Homo sapiens: one gene and its partner. The protein of the gene in region 1 purifies or fractionates together with the protein of each later gene. This does not show direct contact. Each region holds a gene or a part of one and is shown in the gene's direction. Other genes may lie near its edges.

Region 1 (3,500 bases):
AGGTACCACACCAGACACTAAGGATGTGGAGCTGGACAAAGTAAACACAGTGCCTGTCCTCACAGAGTATGTAATCTAGTGGGGAAGGCAACATTAAACAAACAACTGCAGTAAGTGAATAATCACTATGTGTAAAGTGACATGAAACAGAAATACCAGATATTCTGACAGCATTGAACTTGGGGGACCTAACTGAGTTTAAGGGCTCAGGGACACACAAAGATTTATTGTTTATAGGAACTAAAAATTATAAATAAGCCACTTGTCCTAATATAGGGGATGTTGAATTGTGATAGCAGAACACCACTGTGGTTAAGCTCTGGTCTCCAGAGACAGGCCACCTGGATTCATATCCTTGCTCTGTCAGTTATTACCTGGGTGATCGTGGGCAAATTGATTAATCTCTCCACACTTCATGATTTATGTCCATAAAATGAGAACTCTACCTACCTCATAGGGTCATTGTGAGCATTAGTAGAGTTAATATCTCTAAAATGCTTAGGATGGTACAGTACAAAGTAAGTGAACAATAGATGTTAGCTATGTTAATAATCATATGACATACTATTATATAGCTGTTTGCAAAGAATATTTCAAAGAATTAAAAATCTTAAATATAGATAGTCTAGAAGAGCTTGTAATGAAAAGCATCAGTTTTCTTACCTAACACATACCATATTCTCAGTCCCACTCCCTAGAGGCAACCTCTTTTAACTATTTCTGGTCGTTAGTTTTTTTGGTGGTGAGTTTATGAAATCTAAACATTGCTCTTATATGTCTTTTCAAGTTATCAACTTCACACTATATTCATTTACTTTCTATTATGAACAATGATACTGATACCACCTCCCTCCCTTCCCTCTCCCAGTCCTTCCAAATCTGATACTTTTATTATTACTTTTAGCTATTCTATTGATTACCTTTGGGTCTTTAAATAAAATACCTGTATGTCTTCTTCCATCAGCTTTTTTTAAATTTAATTTTTAATCGAAGAATAATTGTGCATAGCTTAAAAACAACTCAACCTGTACTATAAAACATATTTTTAAAAAAGTAGTGTTTTGCTCCATCTCTCTTCATTCCAAAGTTCCATTTAATTTTTTTGCAACCTTGTGTGCAGAAGCTTGAGTTAATCACACTCATTAAATCACGTGTACACTATCATCGTTGATTTGTGCAACCTCTTCCTGTTTTATTTCATTCTTGAATTCTATCTCCATTTCTCTCTTCTGATAGAGAGCTGCTCTCATGTTTGATATGTACATTGAATTACTTTGTCTGCACTTTAGAATATGTAGTCTTTGTGTGTGCGTATATTAGTAATTTATATAATCATATTGTGCTATAAAGATTCTTTTTCCCATCCAGCACTGTGTTTTTAAGACCTATGCACGCTGCTGTGTGAACATCTCATTCATTCTTCTAACTGCTACATGGTGTTCTCTGGGTGTGTCTCCACCTGCCTAGTGGAGACAACCTAGTTATCCCCTGCCTAGTGGAGGCAACCATTTTCAACTCTTTAAACTATTTTTCTAATATTTACTTCCACACTTATAAGTTATATGCTTATTCTGCTTCTACTTCTTGATTTCTAGAATTATAGGTAATTATCTATTGATTTTCAACAATGAAGTAAAAATTTAGGTTTCTTGACACAACTCCCCTTCCGATGGCCTCTTCAACTTCTTTTCCACTCGTCTTCCCAATGTATTTGTGTCCCGGTTTTTGGCTCTGTCAATCTTTAGTGTCTTTATTATTAAGATTATGTAAATATTGTTTGAAGAAGAGCCTTAGTATCCACCTTTGTGACTCTTCCTTTCTTGGGCAACAGGATTACAGCATAGTGTTTAAGCACATGGACTGTGGAGCTGGACAGACTAGATTTGAATTCCGGCTCTGACACTTGTCACCTGTGTGCTTCTGGCCAAACTGCTTAACCTCTCTATGCCTCTGTTTCTGTAACTGAAATGTCTGATAGGGAATGTTTCACTTACTACTTCTACTTTATCTGAATTTTCCAGACCGTATTTTTCTTCCAGATGAACTTGGAAATTATTTAATTACATTTCCTCACCAAATTCCATTGAGATTTTAATTTAGGAATGATTGACATTTTTGCATCTTTTTTTTTCTCCAAAGACATAGTTTAGCTTTATATTTATTCAAGTCATCATTTAGAAAATATTTACAAATGCATTATTAATGTAAAAATTTATAAGAAATAGATGAAATGAAACTCTTCTTTACACCTGATCAATCCCAATATATTTTGTAACTGACTTCTATTGATTCTGTGATAAATTATATGTTCCCAGATAAACCCTGCCTATTCTAATTTTCTAACATCCTCTATCACTCACTCCTCTTTCTTGTTAGCTCATGTTCCCTGATAATATTTTTTTTTTTTTTTTTGAGAAAGGGTCTCACTTTGTCACCCAGGCTGGAGTGCAGTGGCACAATCACAGCTCACTGTAGCCTTAACCTCCTGGTCTCAAGTGACCCTCCCACCTCAGTATCCCGAGTAGCTGGGACTACTGGTGTGCGCCACTACGCCTGGCTAATTTATTATTTTTTGTAGAGACAGGGTCTTGCTATGTGGTCCAGGCTGGTCCTGAACTCCTGGGCTCAAGTGATTCTTCCACCTTGGCCTCCCAGAGTGTTGGAATTACAGGCGTGAGCCACCACGCCTGGCCTATTCTATCTATTCTTTAAGATTCATTTAAGTTCCCACCTGCTCCATGAAACTTTCTACTCTCTCTTAAGTCGTAATGCTTTTCCCTTTGCTGAGCACCTGCATCCGAACACTCTTTACTTTATTTTCTTAATCTTCCATGTGTTCACCAACTAGATTCTAAATTCCTTTATGTCTTCCCTTTATATTCTTCGCAGCCCTTACCTAGTTACACAGGTGTTCATTAAGTTATTTTAGGATGCACTGGTTAGTATTGGAGATTATCTGCTCTAACCTTCTCATTGTTTTAGATGAAAAAACTATAGGGTGATTAGTGCTCATGTTTCATTATCATGTCCCCAGCACTCTTCCTCAGCTACCCAAATTGGTAAGAGAACATACCCTCCTCCCACACTTATACACAGAGCACCCCCATCTTAGGCTGACTTGGGAGAGGTCAGAAGAGGAGATCTGGTTCAGCTGTTACTAAGATTGTAGCTTAAGAGATTTGAGGTATTAAATACTCTGTGCTCAAGCTGTTCATCTAATTTAATTAAATGGATTTTTGAAAGGGAAACTCTTCTTTCTCCAGGACTAACATTGGTATCACTTTTTGAAAACTAGCTTTTATTTATGAGAATTTTCAAAAGATTCCTCTTACCCAGGAAACTTAATAATATTTTGATTTGAATTCTGATTAATTCTGACATCTGAAGGACCTCTAGTGTGTGTTATTTTATTGGTTTCTGGAGGATGGGATGAATTTTGAAAAGTTTTCTAATACATAATTTTTAAGAAGGAATTATTTTGTTGTTGGCAGCACTAAAAA
Region 2 (3,500 bases), on another chromosome or scaffold:
CACCACGCCTTGGCTAATTTTTGTATTTTTTGTAGAGATGGGGGCCTCCCTTTGCTGCCCAAGCTGGTCTTGCACTCCTGGACTCAAGCAGTCCCACCTCAGCCTCCCAAAGTGCTGGGACTACAGGCATGAGCCACTGTGCCTAACCAAGAATCCTTTAAAAGAAATCTTACACAAAAGTCCAGTCCCATGACAGGTGAAAGCTGAGTTGCTGCGGCTGAAGTAGGGGTAGGGCACCCAGAGCCCCACCTGCCCACTTCCTGAGTGCCCCAATCGAGCCTCTCTCTTCCCTTAAGTTAGCAGCTGCAGCCAAATGAAGGGCAAAGCTTGCTGTATGCCAAAACCTTACCTATAATAATAACAACAGGAATACCTACAATAACCATGGCACATGTCCATATTACTCAGTACTTGTGATATGTGTGTGCCATGTATTTACTATGTTTATTTATTTATTTATATATATATTTTTTGAGATGGAGTCTCGCTCTGTCACCCAGGCTGGAATACAGTAGTCCGATCTCGCCTCACTGCATCCTCTGCCTCCTGGGTTCAATCAATTCTCTTGCCTCAGCCTCCCGAATTGCTGGGATTACAGGTGCCCACCACCATGCCTGACTAATTTTTGTATTTTTAGAAGAGACAGGGTTTCACCATGTTGGCCAGGCTGGTTTCGAACTCCTGACCTCAAGTGATCCACCTGCCTCAGCCTCCCAAAGTGCTGGGATTACAGGCATGAGCCACTGCGCCCGGCCAGGAATGTATTTGCTATGTAAAGATTCATACTTTGCAGATATTATCTTATTTCATCCATACAACCATGACCTTCAAAGGTAGGTCAATGCTATATCATCATTTCCTTCTCTTTTTTTGTGTGTTTGTTTTGAGACAGGGTCTCACTCTGTCTCCCAGGCTGGTGTACAGTGGTGCAATCACAGCTCACTGAAACCTCCATCTCCCTGGGCTCAGGTGATCCTCCCATCTCAGTCCCCTGAGTAGCTGGGACTACAGGCATGCACTACCATGCCCAGCTAATTTTGTACCATGCCCAGATGAAGTCTCACTGTGTTGCTCAGGCTGGTTTTAAACTCCCGAGCTCAAGAAATCCACCTGCTTCAGCCTCCCAAAGTGCTGGGTTTACAATGAGCTACCATGCCAAGCCCCATTTCCATTTTATACTTGAAAAATTAAGTAATTTTCCTTGGGTTACAAGCTAGTCCGTGGCAGAGCTGGCTGGAACTTTATCTTAATTCTCTCTGATTCTAAAACTTCCAAAATGGTGATGTGGCTCCTTTATGGATCTGGAAGCCTGCAGTCTTGCTGATGTCAAACTTGTTATATTTAAATAAACTAAGATTTTATTCATCAACATATAGACCTGTCTCCCATGCTATTATATTCTAGTAATTGTGTTAATAATACTAAGTAAAATTAAGATATGTTCTGCCAATTTCTGTCAGAGAACAGCCAGAATTCACTGGTTACTAATAAAAAAGGGATCCAGGTCTATAAGTGCCTCTGTCATCTTTTAGATCTTTACCTCCCTCTCATTCCCTTTTTTCTAGTTAGCTGCTATCACCAAATTAAGGGCAAAAGGCCAGGTTCTTACAAAAACAAACCCAAACAGCATTAAGAAGAAACAAAAGGACCCTCAGGACATCCTGGAGGTGAAGGAACGTGTAGAAAAAAACACCATGTTTTCTTCTCAAGGTACTGCAGTTTCACAGTTAACAGTGGGAAAGAGAAACTGTTTCTAAGGGAAATATGTTCTAAACCCAAACCAGCACCCAGATATCAAGCAATTACTTCCATTTCCTCCTATATAGAATACCTAAATAGAATTTCTATGGGTGGAACTGATTTTTTTTTTTTTTTTCATGGAGTCTTGCTCTGTTGCCAGGCTAGAGTGCAGTGGCGCAGTCTTGGCTCGCTACAGCCTCTGCCTCCTGGGTTCAAGCGATCCTCCTGCCTCAGCCTCACGAGTAAGTGGGACTACAAGCGCGCGCCACCACGCCCAGCTAATTTTTTGTATTTTTAGTATAGATGGGGTTTCACCATGTTGGCCAGGATGGCCTCGATCTCTTGACCTCATGATCCGCCCGCCTTGACCTCCCAAAGTGCTGGGATTACAGACGTGAGCTGGAACTGATTTTTTTATAATTACATTAAATTGGAATGAAATTGGGCACAATTTGAATACTTGGGAATAGGATTGCTCATTGGATCTTTGTACATATATATATTAGCATAAAGATTTACTTTGACAGAACTAGAATTCCTTTGTTTTAAATTGCCATATCTTTATTTTTAAAACTCTGAAGTTGGCAATATCATTTTAACATAATTGTCAACATTATTTACACTGTTGTTATCTGTTACTATCGTCAGCTGCCTATTTGAAGGTGAAAAAGAGATTCTATTTAGTGGTAAAATCTGCCACCACCCCACATTCTAGGCTCAGCTTCTTGGCTCACCTCTGAGAGCTTTTCCCTGCTGGGACCAGCGGGGGTAGGTCAAGTTTGAAGGGCTGGTAGGCAGAGGAGGAGGGAGTGGGAGGGAGTAGAGTTGATGAGGCGCACTGGCTTTCTGAAATTTCTTGGTCGCTGCTAATGTTTGTTCCTTGTGCCCTAGCTGAGGATGAATTGGAGCCTGCCAGGAAAAAAAGGAGAGAACAACTTGCCTATCTGGAATCTGAGGAATTTCAGAAAATCCTAAAAGCAAAATCAAAACACACAGGCATCCTGAAAGAGGTAAGAGCCCAAAAGCTCAAGGATGGTGTTGATGTCCGATGTCCTTCAAAGCCAAGGTGCTAGCTGTAGGACCAAGAATGTGTTGTTTGTTTTATTTTGTTTTTCTGAGACAGAGTCTCAGTCTGTGGCCCAGGCTGAAGTGCAGTGGCGCCATCTCGGCTCAATGCAAGCTCCGCCTCCCAGGTTCAAGCGATTCTCCTGCCTCAGCCTCCCAAGTAGCTGGGATTACAGGTGCCTGCCACCACACGAAGCAAATTTTTGTGTTTTTAGTAGGGACAGAGTTTCACCGTGTTGGCCAGGCTGATCTCTAACTCCTGACCTCAAGTGATCCTCCAGCCTTGGCCTCCCAAAGTGCTGGGATTACAGGCGTGAGCCACCATGCCCGTACCCAGCCAAGAATCTGTTTTTTACATAAATCTAAAAGTAGGTATATGTCAGTTTGTTTGAGTTTGCTTTGAAGAACAGGAGAATTTCTAATAAATTTTAGCTTTGTCCTTGTCTCTTTACTGAAGAATATCATTTGATTTAACATGACTTAAATAGATATCAATATTATAAAAATGTTTGCATTTGGTTATGGCTGTGAAATTATGTTTAAATGGCTCTACACTGCTGCTATTTTCTGCCTTGCAATATGCAAAAAGAGTTTTCCCATTCCAGTATTTTTATATTGGCATTTCAAATGCTCTAAATCAGTAGTTAACCCCATCACACCCAAGGACCCTTTTTAATAACAAGTATTTTGTATTG

What was found. The genes of interacting proteins can lie anywhere in the genome.
Region 2: the proteins of TPH1 (region 1) and MCM10 purify together in Homo sapiens (affinity purification with mass spectrometry; 2 studies listed by BioGRID and IntAct, with this or other methods). This does not show direct contact.

Annotation. Positions count from the first base shown.
Region 1 is NC_000011.10:18,036,270-18,039,769, reverse strand, and holds part of TPH1 (tryptophan 5-hydroxylase 1), read left to right. Parts: intron 1-3,500. UniProt on the Homo sapiens protein: Oxidizes L-tryptophan to 5-hydroxy-l-tryptophan in the rate-determining step of serotonin biosynthesis.
Region 2 is NC_000010.11:13,196,058-13,199,557, forward strand, and holds part of MCM10 (protein MCM10 homolog), read left to right. Parts: intron 1-1,565; coding exon 1,566-1,710; intron 1,711-2,631; coding exon 2,632-2,750; intron 2,751-3,500. UniProt on the Homo sapiens protein: Acts as a replication initiation factor that brings together the MCM2-7 helicase and the DNA polymerase alpha/primase complex in order to initiate DNA replication. Additionally, plays a role in preventing DNA damage during replication.